3 linked regions of the Homo sapiens genome follow. The protein of the gene in region 1 interacts with the protein of each later gene in a biochemical or structural test. Each region holds a gene or a part of one and is shown in the gene's direction. Other genes may lie near its edges. The genes, in order: TNNT1, TPM1 and PRKG1.

Region 1 (7,838 bases):
GTTGGAGGTAGAAGCAGCTAGTAAGGGGTCCTCAGAAATGCAAGAGGAAGACAGGAAGTAGAAGGGGAAGACAGGAAGTGCATTAGGGCTACAGGAAGTCCATGTAAGAGCAAAGAGGTACATGAAGGTCCAGGTGCAGTGGCTTATGCCTGTAATCTTTGAGGTTTAAAAAAAATTTTTTTTTAATTTCCTTTTTTTTTTTTTTTTGCGATGGAGTCTCTGCTGCCCAGGCTGGAGTGCAATGACACCATCTCGGTTGCTGGAGTGCAGTGACACCATCTCGGCTCACTGCAACCTCTGCCTCCCAGGATCAAGTGATTCTCATGCCTCAGCCTCCCGAGTAGCTGGGACTACAGGTGCACACCACCATGTTGTTGTTTTAATTTCTACAAATTTCTTTTTTAAATTAGCCAGTCACGGTGGTGGCATGCAGCTTCTCAGGAGGCTGAGGCAGGAAAATCGCTTGAGCCCATGAGATCGAGGGTGCAGTGAGCTATGACTGCACCACTGCACTCCAGCCTGGGCAATACAGTGAGACCCTATCTTAAAGAAGAAGACAGGAAAGATAGGAGTGGATGCCTGAAACCATGGATTGTACTGAACCCTATATGTAATTTTTTTTCCTATACACACATACATACCTATGATAAAGTTTCATTTCTAAATTAGACACAGTAAGAGATTAACAATAAATAACAACAAAAGAAGGTTGGGCGTGGTGGCTCATGCCTGTAATCTCAACACTTTGGGATGCTAAGGCAGGCAGATTGCTTGAGCTCTGGAGTTCGAGACCAGCCTGGGCAACATGGCGAGACCATGTCTCTATAAAAAATACCAAAGTTACCGGGTGTGGTGGCTCGTGCCTGTAATCCCAGCGCTTTGGGAGGCCAAGGCGGGCGGATCATGAGGTCAGGAGTTTGAGACCAGCCTGGCCAACACAGTGAAACCCCACCTGTAGTAAAAATACAAACATTTGCTGGGCGTGGTCGTGGGTGCCTGTAATCCCAGCTACTTGTGAAGCTGAGGCAGGAGAATTGCTTGAACCCGGGAGGCAGAGGTTGCAGTGAGCCGAGATCTCACCACTGCACTCCAGCCCAGGCAACACTGGGAGACTCCATCTCAAAACAAAACAAAACAGAACAAAAGTTAGCTGGGCATGGTGGCACACACCTGTGGTCCCAGCTCCTCAGGAGTCTGAGGTGAGAGGATGGCTTGAGCCCAGGAAGTTGAGGCTGCAGTGAGCCGAGATTGCACGACTGCACTCCAGCTTGGATGAGGCAGCCAGACCCTGTCTCAAATAATAATAATAATAAAATAGAACAATTATAACAGATTGTAATAAAACTCATGAATGTGGTCTCTTTCTCAAAATATCTTATAGCACTGTAATCACCCTTCTTTTCCTTGTGATGTAAAATGACAGTGCCTATGTGCTGAGATGAGGTGAGGTGGATGACATAGGCATTATGACCTGGCGTTAGGCTACTATTGACCTGAGAATCCATCAAACTTATGAATTGTTTATTTCTGGAATTTTCCATTTAATATTTTTGGGCCATGGTTTACCTCAGGTAACTGAAACCACACAAAGTAAAATTGCAGAAAAGGAGGGACTACTATAATAAGAAGAGAAGGAAGGAGACAGGAAGGGCATAAGGCAGACAGGAAGTGGAGGGGAAAGATAGGAAGTGCAGGAAGGAGACAGGAAGTGGAGGGGAAAGACAGGAAGTGCATGAGGGAGACAGGAAGTGGATGGGGAAAGACAGAAAGTACATGAGGGAGACAGGAAGTGCTGGGGAAAGACAGGAAGTGCATGAGGGGGACAGGAAGTGCATGAGGGAGACAGGAAGTGCATGGGGAAAATTGGCAGGGATTATCTTGAAAAGACAGGAAGTGCTCCAGAACTAGATACTTAGGCATCCAGGGTAGAGTGGCCCCACAGGCTGGAGGGAAGACAGGGATTCTTGAGAGACTGGAGACCAAGAAGAGACCCTAACCTCTGACTCATCGCCATCCTCCAGGAAAACCGGGAGGTGGGAGACTGGCGCAAGAACATCGATGCACTGAGTGGAATGGAGGGCCGCAAGAAAAAGTTTGAGAGCTGAGCCTTCCTGCCTACTGCCCCTGCCCTGAGGAGGGCCCTGAGGAATAAAGCTTCTCTCTGAGCTGAAAGTGACTCCATGTCTATTACCCAGGGCTTAGGCAGGAGACAGATGGGAAGACTGCAGGTGGGGCTCCCCCAAAGCCACACAGCAGGTTGGGGACCAGATGGGTCTCCCATGTGAAGCACTCTTGGCTGTGTTATTGAAAAGAATCCCGGGGTTCATGAATTTGGAGAGCGGAGCTTTGTTTCTTAAGAAGCGGATCACAACCTGAAGACCAGAAGCATGGCTTCTTGCCAAAAAACAAAAGCAGGCACTTTAAGGGAGGGAAGGGCAAGGCAGGAATTTATGCTGAGTGGGTTAGCTAAGTGCACGTATTCAACTGGTTATAGAAGGAGCTATGAATATTCATGGACAGGTGGACACATGGACACACGCATGTGTGACAAGCAAACACTCATTTTTTTTTTTTTTTGAGACGGAGTCTTGCTCTGTCACCCAGGCTGGAGTGCAGTGGCACGATCTCAGCTCACTGCAACCTCTGCGTCCTGGGTTCAAGCCATTCTCCTGCCTCAGCCTCTCCAGTAGCTGGGATTACAGGCATGCACCACCACGCCCAGCTAATTTTTGTGTTTTTCGTAGAGACGGGGTTTCACCATGTTGGCCAGGCTGGTCTCGATTTCCTGACCTCGTGATCCGCCCTCCTTGGCCTCCCAAAGTGCTGGGATTACAGGCGTGAGCCACCGCGACTGGCCGCAAACACATTTTACATGCATCCCACCTTCACTTGGTGGTGGAGGCTTAACATTTAAGTGCATTCCATTGAATGCATTCGTATCGAAACACGAAGCAGGGATATGAAGACACTCAGTGCACAGCCTCTGTCAACAGCCAGAACCAGTCCGTGGTCTGCGGCATCTTATCAGGAGAAAGTTACTGAAATCAGTCTCTTGTTCAACTAATGCTGTAGTTATGCCTTGTGGAACAGGGGGTTCAGCTAGTCAGCATCTGGCAATGGATGGCTGCAATGGTTGTAATATTGCTTATCTTGAGGCCGGTGCTTGTTTAGCTGCTAGAAAAAGGAAAAGCCTTGTGGCAGTTGGAACATAGTCGATTATATAAGTGTAGGGATGCGTGGCTTAACCCTTGCCTGGCATGGCCTTAGGTCTTGTTTATAATTTGGTATCTTATTGCCACAAACAGTTCATTCCATCAGTCTTCTGATCTCTATTGTCACAGCTCCTCTGGCCCATGTGGAGTGCACAGAGATGCCAAGACTAAAGGTCAAAGAGAGAGAGACACAGAGAAACAGACAGGCAGAGAGACATGACCGACAACAGAGAGACTGAGTTGGGAGTAGAGAGAGTAGGAGCCAGGCAAAGACCCAAAGAGAGAGGGAGAAAATACCACAAGATGCATAGAAGGAAGTGCAAAGAAAGGAGAAAAGAGAGACAGAGATATACTCACAGCAAGGTGCAGAGACATGGAGACCCTATAAGAGATGGAAATGGAGAGCCACAGAGGGGGAACTGCGGGCACTAAGAGAGACATGGAGAGAACTAGAAAGATAGAGACGTGAACACAGACACAGAGACCCAGAGCCAAAAAGAGACAGAAATGGGGTCATAGGTGGACAGAAATGCACAGAGAGACTGTGAGCCCCCACAGACACAAACGCTGAGAGGGGCAGACATGCAGAGACACCCACAGAAATGCAGAGACAAAACCACCCGGAGACACATGCCGAGAAACACACTGAGGGGCTCAGAAAGCGACAGATGCAGAGAGAGCCCAAGACAGACCCAGCAAGGGGCCCCGAGAAATGCACAGAAACACAAAGACCGAGACCACCAGAGACAGAGGTACGGAGAGGCGGGGAGGGTGAGGAAGCCTGCTCTCCAGGGCTGGCTTGAACCTAGAACTCAAGGTCATGGCTTGGCTGGGAAGCGGGAGGGGGATACCAAAAAAGATCAGCGTTAGATGGAGGTGGGGAGGGAGGGTAGGTTTCACCCTAATTGACACCCCACCCTCCCCCTCCCCCTCCCCACACCTGCTTCCCGGCTTTAGTGCCTGTTGTCACCAGGATGGAATCCTGGCGGCAGACAAAGGGGTGGGGGTGGGAGGAGGAGACAAAAAGATGGACAGAGACAGAGGAGGAGACTAAGAAGTAGAGACAGACACACAGAGACACACAGATGGAGAGCCACAGAGACAACAGAAATGGGGGTCCAGAAAGAGACCTAGATAGAAAGAGGGAACAGAGAGAAGAAAACAGGAAACATTCCTTATAGCCCATGTGTCATTAGTAGGTCCTCCAAGGACCTACTGTGTGCCGGGCATGGGGACGTCAAAGCACAGGGAGCTATAAGGGAGGTAGTTGGAGCACCACGGGAGCCTGGGGTGTGGGGTGGGAGCAGGGGCGGGGCTCCTGGGCCATGCAGATGGGGTTGGCATGGGGTTGGGGAGGGGCCCACGGAGGCTTCTGGACTCTGAGTGTGGAGCCAGGGGCAGCAGGGCTGTCTCTGAACTCCCAGGCTTGTGTTTGAGCAAAGGAATTCTCTCCCCCTCCCTCTCCCCTCGGGGCGGGCCCGAGCCTCCAGCTATAAACTCCCCGGAGCTTCAGTGCCCTCAGCAAGGCTCAGCCTCAAGATTCACAGCATCTCAGACACAGCCTAGGTAAGGGGCTCTGCGGAGCCCTGTGGTCTTCAAAAACCATGTCCTTGGGGGAGGGGGCAGGAGGCAGGTGGGGAAGATGTCGGGTGTGGAGAAATGGTGCAGAGGTAGGTGGGGCATACAACTGGAGGTCTGGGAACTTGAGAGGCTCAGACTTTAGGGGGACTCAGGATAGAGGGGAAAATACTAGGATTTGTGGGTTACACAAATCCTAACCCGGGGCTGCCAGGACTTGGATGTCCCAGAATAAAACCTCCTAGGATCTTGGGGTTCTGGGAATCTGGGGGAAATCTCAGCAGTCAGGGATATCTGGACTTGGAGGTCAAACAATCTGGGTGTCAGGATTTGGGGCCTCAGACTCTGAGGGTATCAGGAATTGGGGGGGTCTCAGAAGAAATTGGGGTTTTGGTAGTGGAGGGCTCGGAATCTGAGACATTATGATAGAAAGCATGAAAACTTAGAGTGCCATTATCTGGGGTATCATGAACTGGGCCTCCGAGTTTGGGTATCAAGATTTTGGGGGTCTCATATTCTTGAGGTTTCAGATTTTAGGAGGTCTCAAGACCTGGGGGTGGTCTTAGGATGTCCCGGCCCATATCTGGACTATCAAGAACTGGGATTTCAGAATCCAGAGCTGTGAGGACTTGCTGGCCTCAGAAACACGGGCATCATAAATCGGGGTCTCAGAATCTGTGGGTATTGGGATTTGGGGCTAGGCACCCTGTGGCCTAGGGTGTCTCAAAGACTTTGAGGTCTAAGAATGTAGGGGTCAGGGTGAGGTCTACGGACAGAAGGTGCCCTTTATGCCCCTGCCCCCTACGTGATGTATGGGAAGGTGAAAGGGGAGACAGGTGGGGAGGAAACCAGCCAGTGGGGTGGGGCGAGTGGGAGAGGGGATGCGGGTGACTAATTCTCCCAGAAGCCCCCCTTCCTCAAATCCCTTCTTAGGAAATGTCCTCGGTTTCACCATCTATGACATCCCCCCAAAATAGCTCCTGGGGGTGGGGCAGCTATTGTCTTCAGGCCACTGTCCCTTCTCAAATGCCTCTTCCTAATCCCAACTGGATCAGGTTCCCATGGACTTGTCATAAGACAAAAGAGGACAGCTGTGCTGAGGGGGCAGGGTCTGCAGCCTCCTGGCTGTGCCAGGACCACACCTACCAAGGTCTGTCCTCATGCATGCTTTAGGACAGCCGGCCCCCTCCCTCAGACCCAAGAGTCCAGACCTGAGCCCTCCTCCCTCAGACGCAGGAGTACAGGCCCCCAGCCCGCTCCTCCCTCAGACTCAGGAGTCTAGACTCCCAGCCTCTCCTCCCTTAGATCCAGGAGTCCAGGCCCCAGCTCCTCCTCCCTCAGACCCAGGAGGCCAGGCCCCCAGACCCTCCTCCCTCAGACCCAGGCGTCCAGGCCCGCGGCCCCTCCTCCCTCAGACCCAGGCGTCCAGGCCCCTGGCCCCTCCTCCCTCAGATCCAGGAGTCCAGACCCCAGCCCCTCCTCCCTCAGACCCAGGTGTCCAGGACAACCCATCTCAGTCTCAGGAGTCCACACCCACCCTCCCACACACCCCCCAGCCCCTCCTCCCTCAGACCCAGGAATCCGGCCCCCAGCCCCTCCTCCCTCAGATCCAGGAGTTCAGGACCCCAGTCCCTCCTCCCTCAGACCCAGAAGTCCAGGCCCCAGCCCCTCCTTCCTCAGACCCAGGAGTCCAGGCCCCAGCTCCTCCTCCCTCAGACCCAGGAGTCCAGACCCCAGCCCCTCCTCCCTCAGACCCAGGAGTCCAGGCCCCCAGCCCCTCCTTCCTCAGACCCAGGAGTCCAGGCCCCAGCTCCTCCTCTCTCACACCCAGGAGTCCAGACCCCAGCTCCTCCTCTCTCACACCCAGGAGTCCAGACCCAGGAGTCCAGGCCCCCAGCCCCTCCTCCCTCACACCCAGGAGTCTAGGTCGCCCCCTCCTTGGGGCCCCACCCCACTGGGCCTCTTCTCTCTGGTCCTTAGGCCGCACCAGGATGTCGGACACCGAGGAGCAGGAATATGAGGAGTGAGTGCTGCACTGGGAGGGGTTGGGGCGTGCAGTGGTGGAGAGGCTCTCCCACCCCAGGTCTAACTCTCCCCTCCCTCCTCTCTCCCCACACCCGTCCGCAGGGAGCAGCCGGAAGGTGAGTAGGGAGTGGGCCGGCCCTATGGGATGGGGACACGCCCAGGAGCTCTTGGGAGGGGAGGCGAGGAGTGTGGCACTTTGGCGGGGAAGGGGCGGCTCAGCCCTCGGGCCCTCGCCCGCCCTCTCCGGGTCTGGAGCGTCTCCTCGCGCCATCCCTGCACCGCCAGGGGGAACGTGCCCATCGCAGCCGAGGCCAGAGGGACCCCCGTCCAGCAGAGACTGGAACCCTGGTCTCTGGCCACCGCCCCCATCCCTCCCCCAGCTCCTAACGCCTTCTCTTCTGTGCCCCCATCTCCAGAGGAGGCTGCGGAGGAGGAGGAGGAAGGTGAGGTCCCGGACTCCGCAGGTCTGGAGCTGGGGGGTGGGGGGGCGGGGACGCTGGGCCCGGGAGGAGGGGGCGGGATGGGGCTCCCGACGGCCTCGGCTCCCGGTCCTCTAACAGCCTCTCACGTCTCTTCCCTCTCTCCCCTCCCGCGCCCGGGCGTGGCCGCTCCCCCCTCGCTCCCCAAACCCTCGCTGCTCCTCCCTCCCCTCCCCAGCCCCCGAAGAGCCGGAGCCGGTGGCAGAGCCAGGTAACCGCGGCTGCTTCGCTTCCCGAGACCGATGTCGGGGGCCCGGGGGGACCCCCGATATCCTCGGGCCCCAACCTCCAAGACCACCCTTCCCTCCCTCCGCCCCCATAACCCGCCCCCAGGCCCGGTCCTTTAAGCCCCTGAGAGCTCCTGCGCCCTCTCGGGGCCGGGAAGGGAAATGGCCCCGCAGTGGCTTTAACCCTTTCCCTTCCTTCTTAAAGGGACCGACACCCAAGCCTTCTTCCCCAGTCTGGAGGAATCTTTACAGAAGGGTTGGATGTTTGCGGAGAAGCACCACCCCATCCCCCCTTATCTTCGCCTCCAACCTTGTCT
Region 2 (7,038 bases), on another chromosome or scaffold:
GTACAGTCTTGATTCCCGAGTGAGGCCATCTGCTTTGTTGGCAGAAATGGGTGGTTTTGAGAAGCAGAGTTCCTTTGTGTCCAGAAAACGGTTCTAATTTTAATCCTGCTAGGGGATCCCAGGCTTTATCAGGAAGCCAATCAGTAGCACTGCGAAGAAGGACCAAAACTCCTCTCCCCCAGCCACAAAGACCCGGACAAAAGATCTTTGGCCGGAAGGGAGAGTTGGGCCCTGTGTCTTGTGAAAGGAGGCTCTCATGCTGTCATGGTGCAAGTCATTTCTTCCCAGAGTGACCTGGCACATCCAGATTGGGCAGCTTAGAGACCACAGACAGTTTCTCAGTGGATTCACAGAGGCCTCTCTCCTCAAGGGTGGTAGAAAACTATTATCAACGCAGGTTTTCAGCAGAATTTGCTCCTGGTCGTGTCCCCATGAAAACAGCCTCCTGTGATAAGAGGCAACTTGATTATTAAGGTTTCTGTTTTTTCCTTATTGGATCACATCGTGGCTATCCTGAAACAGCATTGCCCCTCCTTTTTATTACCATTATTACCTTCAGATTACACTATGCTCACAAGTTTTGATCTGCTTCAGAGGCTCCCTTCCTCTCTCTGGTTCTTCCACTAAATACAAATTTGATTTTGTCAGTTATCTCACCAACTTGTCTCACGTTAGTGTCTCTTGTATTCTTCCACTGCAGTAAGGAGGTAGATGCACAGATCAGCCATCAAATTGATGGAGTTCTTAGGTTTACTTTGTTTTCCTGGCAGCCCCCACCTTTTTAGTACATGTCTCATCCTACTGCTGTTTTTGAGATTGTGAATGTGTATTTTATCCCTCCTTCCACATTTTGGTCTGGCTGCCGGTTCACCTAGGTCAGACTTCCAATTGAGACTGCCCAATCACAGCTAACCATTCTGAGTCAAAGCAGAAGCCTCTGATCTCCTCTCTGCTGGCACTCCTAATAGAGAGTTGCTTCTCTCTGGTCTACCAGAAAGAGGATCATATTGTTTGTAGACAAAACCCTTAGGGCCTGATGGGATCTGATCTCTACCCCCATGCCCTTCTGTTACACAAAGCTTGCAAGACCCATGGTGTGTGTGTTGTGTCTTCCTGCTGCAGGTGGCCCGTAAGCTGGTCATCATTGAGAGCGACCTGGAACGTGCAGAGGAGCGGGCTGAGCTCTCAGAAGGGTAAGCGGGCCCGGCGCCAGGAGGCCACGAATGGGGTGCTGCAGAGCAGTGACTAAACAGCATGACCTTCTGGCAGCTGCACATTACCTGTTTCAGCTCCGGGCTCCTTTTGTGCTCATTTGATGTGGATGAGCCACGAGTATGGAACATGGAGGACTCGTGTGGGGTGTCTTATGTATGAATGCGTGTATCACTGCATGCCTTACCTGCACACTGATTTTGTGAATGGCCTTGTGCATTTCCTGTGTCCACTAACAGCCAAGTCCGACAGCTGGAAGAACAATTAAGAATAATGGATCAGACCTTGAAAGCATTAATGGCTGCAGAGGATAAGGTACTGATGGCTCGTGTGGTTTTTAGGTTTAACTGCAACCCAGACATCTTTCAGCTTCCAATGCCTCCTGGTTCGTTTGGTATAACGACTGCACCTTCACTTCACCCTCTGCTATTTATATCTTGCCTTAAGTGCTTTCCCTTGGTCCTTTATGCTCCTTTGTTTTCCCTTCATAAATGCTCTTTGGGCAGCCAAAAAAGGAGCCAAATTATCGCACTTCAAAGTTGTTGGATTTGGTCACCCTGCCTTCTGCTGTTGCGAGGTTGGGGGGCAGTGTTCCTGGAAAACCTAAACATTTTAATACCTGATGATTTGGCTACTTTAAGGCAGCCCTTCGTCTCTAGGACTCAGTTTTCATTTTTTCCCATCCCTCTCCTTTTTCTCTCCTCCTTCCTTTGGCTTGTCTCCCACCCTTTCTGCCTCTGATCGAAAACATTAGCAAATGTGCCGAGCTTGAAGAAGAATTGAAAACTGTGACGAACAACTTGAAGTCACTGGAGGCTCAGGCTGAGAAGGTAGGCCAGGAGGATGGTGTGGGGGAAAGGCATCTTTTAAGAGCTGCTCAAAAGAGGCCCTGCCAGAAAGCAACACTTACAGTAGACATTTTAGTAAAATGGCAATATTGTGAGGTGATTTTTGGAGAGTTACTAGATAACAAATTCTTTTTTTTAACTAGAGAATTTATTTTATGTTAGGGATATGAGGCATCAATTTAATTTAAACCAAGTGCCAAGTGGATAAGTTATCTTGTTGTTATCCCATGTAAAACAATAGGCAAGAAAGCAGAGAATGTATTGCAGTGTGCCATTTGATATCAGAGGTTCCATTACCTCCTAAGAGATCCTTAACATCTGTTGGCTGAGCTGGCGAGTTCTTTGCATGAGAAGCCATGAGTAGATTGAGCTGCAGCCTGACATCTGGAATGCTCTTTCTAATTACAGTACTCGCAGAAGGAAGACAGATATGAGGAAGAGATCAAGGTCCTTTCCGACAAGCTGAAGGAGGTAATATGAGAGTTGTGGATGAAGCCAACTGGATTTTAAATGAGTTTGTTTTCATGGAACCGGTCAGGGCCTTTTCATTTTAAAGTTCCAATGATCCAAGTCAGGAATATTCAAAGGTCGCCTTGGAGTTTATGTACTGTGCTAACTGCCATTTCTCACAGAGGTGACTGAAACTGACAAGTAGTTTCTGATCCATTTTATAGGTGATGTGCTTCATTTTCATCCTCTAGTTTTCCCTATGTTTGTAGCTACAGGAAACATAAAACTTCCCAACTTTAACTCAAATAAATCATTACAGGCTGAGACTCGGGCTGAGTTTGCGGAGAGGTCAGTAACTAAATTGGAGAAAAGCATTGATGACTTAGAAGGTAAGATCTTAAGTAGTGTTTTTAGTTTAATCCTTATGGTTGAATACCAACCTGGCAAAACAATTTTCCAATTCAAGGGCATCCACATTGATACGCTCCTTTGCACTTGCACATTCTTCCTGTGTGTCCTCTGGGGTTTTTCTCTGTGGCTCTTGAACTCATGAACCTAAGTCTTCTGCTCACGAGGTGACTAGTTAGCCACCAGCCATAGTGGCAAATGCCATCCAGCTTGACTTCATGCTCATTACAAGTGTGGCAGGTTTATTTTTCACTGTGAGTGAGGTGCTTATTGGTGAGAATGACTCTAGTATATTTTATATCTTTAGTGTTACTTCCTAATTAAATTGGGAATGATGTGGTGATTGTGGTCTTGTTTTTAGAAGAACCCATCTTCTTCCAAGTATGAATTCAAAGTAAGGATTTAGGGGTTATTTTAAGTCATATATTATCTTAACAAAATACTTTATATCCTGAAGGAGGAGGGAAAAATTATACTTAAGCATTTCTTCCCTAAGGCACTTAGGTTTTATTTTAGTAATAACCACTCTATCTCACAGATATCCTAAATGTTGAGCTTTGAAGCTTGTGAAGGATTAGCTGTGAACAAGAAAGAAAAAAGACAAATATCTACATCACAGAAGGGATTAGAGAAGGAACTAGTGTTTGGTGCAGATAATAACCAAAATAGTGGAGAAGAGAGAATGACAAATGGTTGCAAAATGATCTGCCAAAGTGCAGCAAAGTATGAAACCTGCAGCATTACAAAAACTAAGTTGCAGACTTGCCATATAAAGTGTGGCGCCCATTGCTTTTCAAGCCTCCTGGACCAGTAATAGGCAGCTTGAGTGGGAAGACCACAGGAGTAGCTTAAATGGCACTAAGAAATCGCTATCCCAGTGGTCTAGTGTGGTCAGGAAGTCAGTGGTTTGAAGGTGGAACCAGATAAGGACTACAGGCTGTAGTCACAAATTGTTCTTCCAAAACACTGCCCTTGCATTTTTTTCCCATTGTTTATAGCTGCAGATGCCTGACTACTCCAGTGTAATTAAAATATAGCTCTGCAAAAGAAAGATGTTCCATTAGCCCCTGCCTCCCCTCACCAGGAGACAGCCTTCTGTGGTTTCGTTTACAATTTAACATGGTTTACTGATATACCTACCATATTTGTTAGGATTTTCATATTGAGTCTTTTTCATTTTATTTTCTAATGGGTTTTGTTCTCTTTGTTTTTGTTTCAATTTACTTAAAACAAAACGCACGCCTCCTGCATTGGCCACCTGCTGCGGCACCAACCCCTTCATGCATTGCCCTTTTCTTGCTGCTGTGTTGGGATGGTGCGCGCACCACCCTCACTCACCCTCCATTTCTTGATCACTCTCCATGTTCTTGCACCTCTGCCTTCCACTTCCTGGTCATAGACGAGCTGTACGCTCAGAAACTGAAGTACAAAGCCATCAGCGAGGAGCTGGACCACGCTCTCAACGATATGACTTCCATGTAAACGTTCATCCACTCTGCCTGCTTACACCCTGCCCTCATGCTAATGTAATAAACTCACCACCATGCCTTCCTTGCTCCCTAATCTCCATCTTTGCACTCTTGTGTTCACCCTTTTTGTCATAACCTAGAATAGTCATTGTTTTTTCACTTTCTGCTAATATAAAGGCCAATTAGATTAAGTCTGTCTATACAAACCATTTTCTTTTCAGAATCCGTTTATTTTGTAAACGCTGAACTAGAGCAGTGAACTAGAATGAGTGACCTTGAGCACTGTCCTTTTGGGAAATTAAGCTAAACTCAAGTAAAACTAGAAGGCCATGCCGTTTGTTGTACAGGAACTTCTCAAAAAATATCAAAATTTGTTTCCTGAAATTCAACTAAGTACAACATAATCATTTTCGTTAAATATAATTTGAAGGAACCCTTAAAGTGTCAGGTTATTGAGAATCTGAGGATAAGGAAATTGGCATGATCCAATACAGCTTTAACAGTGGTACTACAAAAGATCATCTCTTTTACTTTTAAGAATTCTAGAGTAGGCCGGGCACAGTGGCTCACGCCTGTAATCCCAGCACTTTGGGAGGCCGAGGCGGGCGGATCACGAGGTCAGGAGATTGAGACCATCCTGGCTAACACGGTGAAACCCTGTCTCTACTAAAAATACAAAAAAAATTAGCCGGGCGTGGTGGTGGATGCCTGTAGTCCCAGCTACTCAGGAGGCTGAGGCAGGAGAATGGCATGAACCCGGGAGGTGGAGCTTGCAGTCAGCCGAGATCGCACCACCGCACTCCAGCCTGGACGACAGAGCGAGACTCTGTCTCAAGAAAAAAAAGAATGGTAGAGTAAAAAGAACCCTCTGCTGAGTAACCAAGCCTTTAATTTTGTGTTTTTATGAAAGGAATTAAAATACCCACGATAAATATTTACCACAACCTGTGTCAAATAAATGGGAAATTAAACACAGATTGTACAATGTGAGCTTGGGAGTTAATGGCCCAGATTTTACTGTTAGGCAGTAAGAGTTGGAGTAGGTAGTCTTGTTATCATGAGAAGAACCTTGAACAGATACAACTAATTTACATATTACTAACCAAACTTAAACATTAAACTTTTTCTACTACTTTAAATTCTAACCTGGAATGTTTCAGAGTTCTTCATTCTAATATCACCCTGAATTCCATTGAAGCTGGAAATGTCATTTTCCAAGCCCACCTGTCATTCATTTACCCATGCAGAAAAAATGGTAACTTGAAGAGAGTGGCATGTGCCTGCTGCCTTAGAGGTTATAGAATCCCCACAGTCAACAAAAAAGCCTCTAGAGACATGACTGTTGCCATGGAAACCAGAGAAAATGTGTCTTCTCATCCCTCATTTGTAAATGAGGGGGTGGAGCAGATCATCTGTCTCTAAGGTCTTTTTCAGTGCTAAAATGTGGTGATTCTTTGGGAAAAACTTTTTGCATCAAGTATGATTAAATATTCTGAAAGACGAGTGTAGCTTAAAATTTTTTTTGTTTTTAAATTCTGTTCATGGGTCTTCTTAAAATGGACCCTTGCCGAAAGGCGGCCTGTGACGGCCTCAGGTGGGAAGATGGATGTCCTTCCAAGGGTGTGGCTGGCAGTGGGGTTTGCATGACTGCTTCTTGTCTGTGTTTCAAGTGCTCTCATCTATTGGTTTGGTTTCCTTTCTTTTTTTTTTTTTTCTCATTGTGCCACTTTTTTTTTCCTCCCACCTTTTTATCTTCACGCAGATAAGTTTCTTTGCTTCACTTCTCCCAAGACTCCCTCGTCGAGCTGGATGTCCCACCTCTCTGAGCTCTGCATTTGTCTATTCTCCAGCTGACCCTGGTTCTCTCTCTTAGCATCCTGCCTTAGAGCCAGGCACACACTGTGCTTTCTATTGTACAGAAGCTCTTCGTTTCAGTGTCAAATAAACACTGTGTAAGCTATTTCTGTTTGCTATTCTTTTTACTTCTTATTTATTGACATTTTAGTTTCAACATTGAATAAAACTACAAAGCTGCTTCACACATATGAGGGTTAGTGTTTGGCTGCTGCTTTTTCTTTTTAAATACTGAACACTATACAGAATTATATCAGGAGTTTCTAAAGCAGTAGTTCCTTGTTGAACTTCAAAAAAATACCCAGGCCTGCATTCCCTCTCAGAGTTCTGATTTTCAAAGGTTAGAATGAGGTCTGGACATCTGGGGGGGTTTTGGGGGAATTGTGATGGCTCTGCTTTGCAGTCTGGGTCACACAGGGGACATTGCTTGTTGAGAGTTGAAAGGTCTGGCTTGATCAGTGTCTTCCTTTGCTGGAGGTTTAGCTCGGGATGTAGTGACCCCTCTGTGTTGATTATTTCGGTGGCCTTACTTGGGAGGACCTGGCTAACTAATGAAAGGCTCATGATGAATGGTTCTGTAGCTGTCCCATATTACTAGGAAGTTATACATTGAGAAGGGTGAAAAAGAACTTGGATTCAAACAATGTAAGTTTTGGTTATTGTCGATCATCCTTTTATAGCACAAAGAAAAGTTCAAGCTTTTTTGAAGTATATTCATGACTCAGCCACCTTTATTTTGATCATGAAAATGACATCTTAGGTTTTCTAAATATGATTACTCTGTTTAGTCGTGATTT
Region 3 (7,106 bases), on another chromosome or scaffold:
GAGACTTGCAAGTTTTTTCATGATGAGAGTTTTACTTTTACTCATTGTAAAAGCAAGGTATGAGGATTGTTCAAAAGTTAAGCAATTCAAAAAGTAAAAAGAAGTAAAAATCAACTAAAAATCTCCCTAAGGAAAAATCATTGTTAACGTATTGATGAACACATTTCTGATTGTCTCTTCATACATTTATTTCACATATAGATGTGTGTGTATATATATACATATGAATGTATATATACACACTAACATACGAACACACTGTGAGATCATAAAATGCATGCTGACTTGTAATCAGTATCTTTTATTCATATATATGTCTTGGTTATTTTTCCGTAATGTTAAATATAATTCTAAGTCATCATTTTTACAGTTGCATTGCATGGATATACCATAATTTATTTTTCAAGCTCCTCCTCTTGCTAGAAATTTAGATTGTTTCTAAATTTTTCCATTAGAAACAATGTTGAATTGAACATTCTTGAATGATCTTTGGGAAGTTGTTGGTTTATCAGAAGATTTCTGATGAATATGTTACTTGGGCTTTATGGAAATAATTAACTTCAACATTCTCCACTGTCTCTGTTGAGTTAGCTCACACCAGTGGTCCTCAGGTACCCTGACTTTCTGGTTAAGATCCTGAGTTCTGTGAGTCTTGTAGCATTCTGGTTTAAATTGGAAGTGGAGATTCTAAGGGCCCTGCTCTAAGGAGCTCATGAGATCTTGTATAGAGTCCAAAGAAGGAAGATGATTCTAGACCCAAGGACTGGTTCCATGCAAAGTAAAGGCAAAGCAGAAAGCCTCAGTAGGTTAGCAGTATAGTTCTATAAACTTTTTGTAATTAATGCTTTTTAAATTGGCAACTAGTAAGCCTGACTCCCAAGAATTTCTGTTGCTTTCTGTAGCTTTTACCTATCTCTTATGACATCTGCCACCCACCAGTTCTCATTATCCTCTTTCTACCCCACTTGGCTTCTCCTTGCAGTATTCAAGCAATCGGGTATCTCAAACCCCTAACACATGGAGGTCCCTGGGAAGTGCCTAGGAAAATGTCAGTGAGGCTTTGGCTGTTCTCCCAAATCACATGCCTAGCATAAGTTAAGCTTAAAGGTAATAGAAATATTGTTCAGTTTATCTCACAGTCCATGAGTTAGTCGATTCCGTTAAACTCTGATTTGCAAAGTATCAATCACTATGCATTTAATTGGTTTTGTATTCAGCTGAAGGGAAGCAGCATATACTGGAAATAGCTTGGGCCAAAAAAAAACCTGAACATGAATCCATTTCTGCCACTTGATAGCTCTGTGACCTTGGGAAAGATAGGAATCATTTTTGGAAATCAGTTTGTTCCTCTGAAAAAGCAACATTTGATTTGCCCTATTCAGTAGAGATTGCTGGGTACAAGCAGAGTCCATCAATGAATGCCCATTTGGTGGTGCGTTTTCATTTAGGATCATAATAACTGTGGTATCTGGTATTATCCTCAGCTAGAACTAGGGCTCAGAGCAGTTAAGCAACTAGCCCGAGAGAGACTAGTTGCTTAGACTGAGAGGGACTAAGTGGAGTCAGAATTCAAGTCCAGACCTGTGACTATAAAGGCTGAATTCTTTCCTCCTACCCTGTGTACAAGTATAAAAAAAAAAAAATCTGTGTATCTGTGTTATCATCACTAAAGAGAATCATTTTTATAGTAGGCATTTTTGAACAACTGCACAACAGTCCTCACTAGTTTAACTGGGAATGACTCTGAAGAGGGAATATGACTTTACTTCTTCTTCTCTGAATTGTAGTACTCTAACATAGCTCATTTTTCATGCCATCTTCCCTAGCTTTCCAGATTTCTTTTAGAAGTGAGTTTTCACATTTGGTGTTTTATTTTGAGTTACTACTGAATTTATTTGTAGCACACTAATCTGTCATCTTTGAGTTTCACAGCCAGAGTACAGGGTCTTTGGCTGTTAAAAGCATTTTCAAATACCCATTTTTCCCTCTACCTGTCATACTGATTCACAATTGCTGGCAGCTAACCGAGGCCCATTTATTTGCAGTATCTTCATGCTCCCTCCTAAGGAACTTGCCACATGAATATCTTCGAAGATTGAACTCAATCTGTACATGTGTGCAGGAACAAGACACTTAAGACCTTCGCTATCCCTGCTGATGAAGCAGTAAATAATTAACGACTAAAGAGGGGACAGCCATACTTCAGCTGAAAAGCAGAAACAGCATGCCATGTTATTTCCCCAAGGTTACATTACTCCCAAATAATATGGGCTGTTTGGTATCATCTTGAGGATTCTGCTGCTTGAGAGCACTAGATGATAATGTCCTTACATTGCTTTTAAGTAATTAGCTCTATTACCTCTCTTGTTTTTGTTACAAGTCACCTTCTTGAAATTTCTTGTAAAACCATAAACAGCACCCTGTCTGAGTAAGGCATGTGGAAGATCCATGCCTCCTCTGGAGCCACTGGGAGCCATGAGGGCTGCAAGAGAGGCATGGCACATTGAAAGATATTAAGCCTCCAAGTCTTCCCAGTTATTAGAGAGTAAAGTTTGAGGTCAAAGGAACTAAAGCCATCATGCTTGTTTGAGAAGAAAAACAAACGGTTTTCAAAATCTCCTGAAAAAATCTTGTTACAATTTTTTTTCTCTTTAAACTGTAGGGAGGGAAAATTCTGCAAGGTTAAAAAGAAGAAATGAATACAGTCAGTACTGAAGAAATAACAGTCTGCAGTCTCAGCAGAGACTAGGGTCCACCACTCAAGCTAAAAATTAGAAATGTTAACAACAGGTGCTGGAGAGGATGTGGAGAAATAGGAACACTTTTACACTGTTGGTGGGACTGTAAACTAGTTCAACCATTGTGGAAGACAGTGTGGCGATTCCTCACAGATCTAGAACTAGAAATACCATTTGACCCAGCCATCCCATTACTGGGTATATACCTAAAGGATTATAAATCATGCTGCTATAAAGACACATGCACACGTATGTTTATTGCGGCACTATTCACAATAGCAAAGACTTGGAACCAACCCAAGTGTCCAACAATGATAGACTGGATTAAGAAAATGTGGCACATATACACCATGGAATACTATGCAGCCATAAAAAATGATGAGTTCATGTCCTTTGCAGGGACATGGATGAAGCTGGAAACCATCATTCTCAGCAAACTATCGCAAGGACCAAAAACCAAACACCGCATGTTCTCACTCATAGGTGGGAATTGAACAATGAGAACACATGGACACAGGAAGGGGAACATCACACACTGGGGACTGTTGTGGGGTGGGGGGAGGGGGAAGGGAAAGCATTAGGAGATATACCTAATACTAAATGACAAGTTAATGGGTGCAGCACACCAACATGGCACATGTATACATATGTAACAAACCTGCGCGTTGTACACACGTACCCTAGAACTTAAAGTATAATAATAATAAAATTTTAAAAAAAAGATAAAAAAAATTAGAAATGTTTGTGGATTAGAACTAAGGAGGAAGAATATAAAGGCCCATATAACCCTATTTTTGGCCATCTTTACTGAAATAAAATTGGAAAAGAAGTTTTTTTTCTACTCTTTTGACAGAAGAACTATAAAATGTATTCAAACACACTCTATGACATGAAATAATAAAACTAGAACTAAGTACATTTTCCCTCTTCTAATCCACACGTGAACACAATTAATTTGGAATCAAGTTAGTTAAAATTCAGCCAATTCAGAGCATGAGATTGGATGATAGCTGTGAGCCCTGGATGTTAAACGCAGCTCTACCAAGGATTTACTGTGTTTTGACTTGGGAGGTGGCTGAGGTTCATTTAAGTGCGCCATGTACCTGTTAATTTGGGGATAATAATGCACTCTTACAAGTCTATGGGCTTTTTCTTACTCTCTTCTCTCTTTCTTTAAGGTCCAGTTGAAAAGTGAAGAATCCAAAACGTTTGCAATGAAGATTCTCAAGAAACGTCACATTGTGGACACAAGACAGCAGGAGCACATCCGCTCAGAGAAGCAGATCATGCAGGGGGCTCATTCCGATTTCATAGTGAGGTAAAGGCTCCATGCCAGGGACAGACGTACCCAACTCCAAGTGACAAATCCACCACAAAACCCTCTGCCACTTGTGCTCACTGTTAACACATTTCGTATGCACAAAGAAACTTCTTTTTAATCTAATCTTAAGAAAGTTTTGTTTGATTTCTAAAAATAAAGTTCTGACTCTATTCTTTCTTTTAAAGAGAATTAGTGTCTGAAAACAATGTGTTTTCCCAAAGGAGGTACCAGAGTTTCTAACATTCCATTTTTATCTTTTTTTAAATCCCCAAACTCTACATAGACCTTTGATGCTTAAAAGACAAAATATCCAAAATCAAACTATTTAACCTTTAATTATCTGAATATTTTTTGAAGATCTAAAAAAATGAAATGACAGCTGACCATTCCACCTCAGTACTAATAAATGGATAATGGGGAGATTTTTATATGTGGAAGCAGCTTTTTGTAGTGAATTTTCCAGTGGCATTTACTGAAAACAAGATGTAACATGAATTTGAGCGAATAGCATATGAAATTTATACATGTCTGAATCTGTAAAGTTTAATCCACTTTATTCCCATTTTCACTGCATGTTGATGACCACTAAATGTTGCCCCAAGGGTCTATGCTCAAAACATTACCCAAATTGGAATGGAAAGAATCCCAAGAAACCCTCTTTGTCCATAATCATTATGATTAATCCATTTCAAGGGAGAGATTAGCGCCTTAGTTTCTTCTATTAAAATCCTATTCATGAGCCATTGGCTTCTTTTCCCCATGTGTGGGCTTAGATCTCTCTCATTCTGACAAAATTTTGAGCTTGGCAAATCAAAACTATAATCTGGGCCCCCCAAAATTGCACACTTGTAAAAGACAGTAATGTTTATAATCTTTGTTTTCTTGTTTGCAATTTACAGACTGTACAGAACATTTAAGGACAGCAAATATTTGTATATGTTGATGGAAGCTTGTCTAGGTGGAGAGCTCTGGACCATTCTCAGGGATAGGTAGGAGATTTAAGAAATTTCTATGATATCTCTAAAAACAGTTGCCCATGTTGGTCTATAAGAAGAGTTAATATGATAAAGTATAATAATCATATTTATAATTTACACATGCTTATATTTCAATATTTAAAGTAAGCACAGGGCATAACCCACTATACACATATGATTTACTGTACATATAACAAAACTCACTTTGTAACTAACAATACAGGCTTAGTCGATCATAAAAATGGTACATAGCAAAATATATACATGGCCTTAGTTTTGCATGAATGTTAGAATTAGCTCTGTAGCTGGAATTCAATTCATTGCTTTAGCAGAAAGAGAATTATAGTTATTTTATAATTATAATTTGAATTAACTATCAGTTTAATTGCTCTACTCTTTTTCCAGATAGGCAGTTTGCCTTTTGTGACATTGTGAATTTTTTCCAAAGTAATTTTTCCCTCTACCTTTACATGGCTCTTTGGTTTCAAAATTAACAAAAGTTTCCAGCCATCTCTTTATCCCTTGGCTAGTCTTAGGAAAAAGAAAAGAATCCACTTATAAGCAATATTTCATGTAAATTATCTGATTTAGATTTACCTTCTTACCCTTCCAGGGCAAGGAAAGTTTGTCTACATGGTGCTTGTTTGTTCTAATCATGCAAATTCATTGTCTTAATTTTCCATCTCATATTTAGATAACTAGCAAATTATCTAATTATCTTCTAATATAATTTATCCTATAAAATGTCTCAGGAGATCATTATCTACCCTGTGTTTTTTTAAAAACACACTTTTATTTTCCTATGAATAATCTTTTGATTATTTTCCATGAATGATTTATTGATCATACAAAAGTCATCTTTGTTCTTTTGAACACTCACATTTAGACATCTGTATTTTTCTTATTTGTTTGAGTCCTGCCTCCCAGACTCTCCTTCACAGGGTAGCATCCTTCTGAAACTTAGCTATAGGTAGCCCTGATGTATATAACCATGTAATGTTTTTATATTTGTTACTTTGCAGATACCCCAGAATAAAACAAGTGGTTCCTTATGAACTGTTGATTTAAATTCTCATTCCTAATGGTGTTCTTATGGTACCTTCATATCTTTGTACAACAGGCCCTTTCGTGTTATTCCCATGGCCTTTCTTATATATGCCAAATGGATTTCTTGTTACCACATTGTATCCTATTGCATCGGTATTTTATTTCAATTCTTAAATTTAAGGTTAAAAAAGCATAAAAGGGAATGTAATCATGTTGGCATTAGGCGATAAGGTTAACATCTATACTAAGCTATTATATCATAGTGTATATATTATGTATTATTGCTAGTTAATATGTACATAGAGATTATATACCAGGCATTGTGATAGAGGCTGGGGATCCAGTAATAAACAAAACAGATGGGGTCTCTCTCCTCAGAATGTATAGTTTGTGGCACAAAGTTAATATTTTAATCTGTGAGTTAACATTTGGCATATCTAATGTGTTTCTACTGTATTATATTTGACTTGATATTTCAATTCACTGATTTATTTGAAGTCTTCTACTTTTTTTTCTAATTAGAATAGAAGAAGATTTACAGGTGGAATTAAACATGAAAGCAATAATAAGCCACAAAGGGAGAGCCCAGCTATCCCTCTTATAGCTTATTATTTTTTTATTTTTTCATAAGTTATTGGGGTACAGGTCATATTTGGTTACGAGTAAGTTCTTTAGTGGTGATTTGTGAGATTTTGGTGTACCCATCACGCAAGCAGTATGTACTGCACCATATTTGTAGTCTTCTATCCCTCACCCCCCTCCGACTCTTCCCCCCAAATCCCCAAAGCCCATTGCATCATTCGTATGCCTTTGTATCCTCATAGCTTAGCTCCCACATATCAGTGAGAACATGTGATGTTTGGTTTTCCATTCTTGAATTACTTCATTTAGAATAATAGTCTCCAATTTCATCCAGTTCCCTGCAAATGCTGTTAATTCATTCCTTTTTATGGCTGTGTAGTATTCCATCATATATATACATATATATATATACATGCCATCATATATATATATATATACACA

The links.
Region 2: the proteins of TNNT1 (region 1) and TPM1 form a complex in vitro, tested with the Homo sapiens proteins (one study listed by BioGRID).
Region 3: the proteins of TNNT1 (region 1) and PRKG1 form a complex in vitro, tested with the Homo sapiens proteins (one study listed by BioGRID).

What each region holds. Positions count from the first base shown.
Region 1 is NC_000019.10:55,146,101-55,153,938, reverse strand, and holds the start of TNNT1 (troponin T, slow skeletal muscle), read left to right. Parts: upstream 1-4,732; 5' UTR 4,733-4,778; intron 4,779-5,845; exon of another isoform or gene 5,846-5,940; intron 5,941-6,770; 5' UTR 6,771-6,781; coding exon 6,782-6,813; intron 6,814-6,917; coding exon 6,918-6,931; intron 6,932-7,231; coding exon 7,232-7,258; coding exon of another isoform or gene 7,259-7,279; intron 7,280-7,472; coding exon 7,473-7,505; intron 7,506-7,838. Other genes in the region: TNNI3 (troponin I, cardiac muscle), read left to right, coding at 2,022-2,105. UniProt on the Homo sapiens protein: Troponin T is the tropomyosin-binding subunit of troponin, the thin filament regulatory complex which confers calcium-sensitivity to striated muscle actomyosin ATPase activity.
Region 2 is NC_000015.10:63,059,747-63,066,784, forward strand, and holds the end of TPM1 (tropomyosin alpha-1 chain), read left to right. Parts: intron 1-1,122; coding exon 1,123-1,193; intron 1,194-1,451; coding exon of another isoform or gene 1,452-1,527; intron 1,528-1,966; coding exon 1,967-2,042; intron 2,043-2,468; coding exon 2,469-2,531; intron 2,532-2,829; coding exon 2,830-2,899; coding exon of another isoform or gene 2,900-3,063; exon of another isoform or gene 3,064-4,317; coding exon 4,318-4,396; coding exon of another isoform or gene 4,397-4,400; exon of another isoform or gene 4,401-6,149; coding exon 6,150-6,153; coding exon of another isoform or gene 6,154-6,241; 3' UTR 6,242-6,432; downstream 6,433-7,038. UniProt on the Homo sapiens protein: Binds to actin filaments in muscle and non-muscle cells. Plays a central role, in association with the troponin complex, in the calcium dependent regulation of vertebrate striated muscle contraction.
Region 3 is NC_000010.11:52,267,434-52,274,539, forward strand, and holds part of PRKG1 (cGMP-dependent protein kinase 1), read left to right. Parts: intron 1-3,916; coding exon 3,917-4,056; intron 4,057-4,958; coding exon 4,959-5,048; intron 5,049-7,106. UniProt on the Homo sapiens protein: Serine/threonine protein kinase that acts as a key mediator of the nitric oxide (NO)/cGMP signaling pathway. GMP binding activates PRKG1, which phosphorylates serines and threonines on many cellular proteins.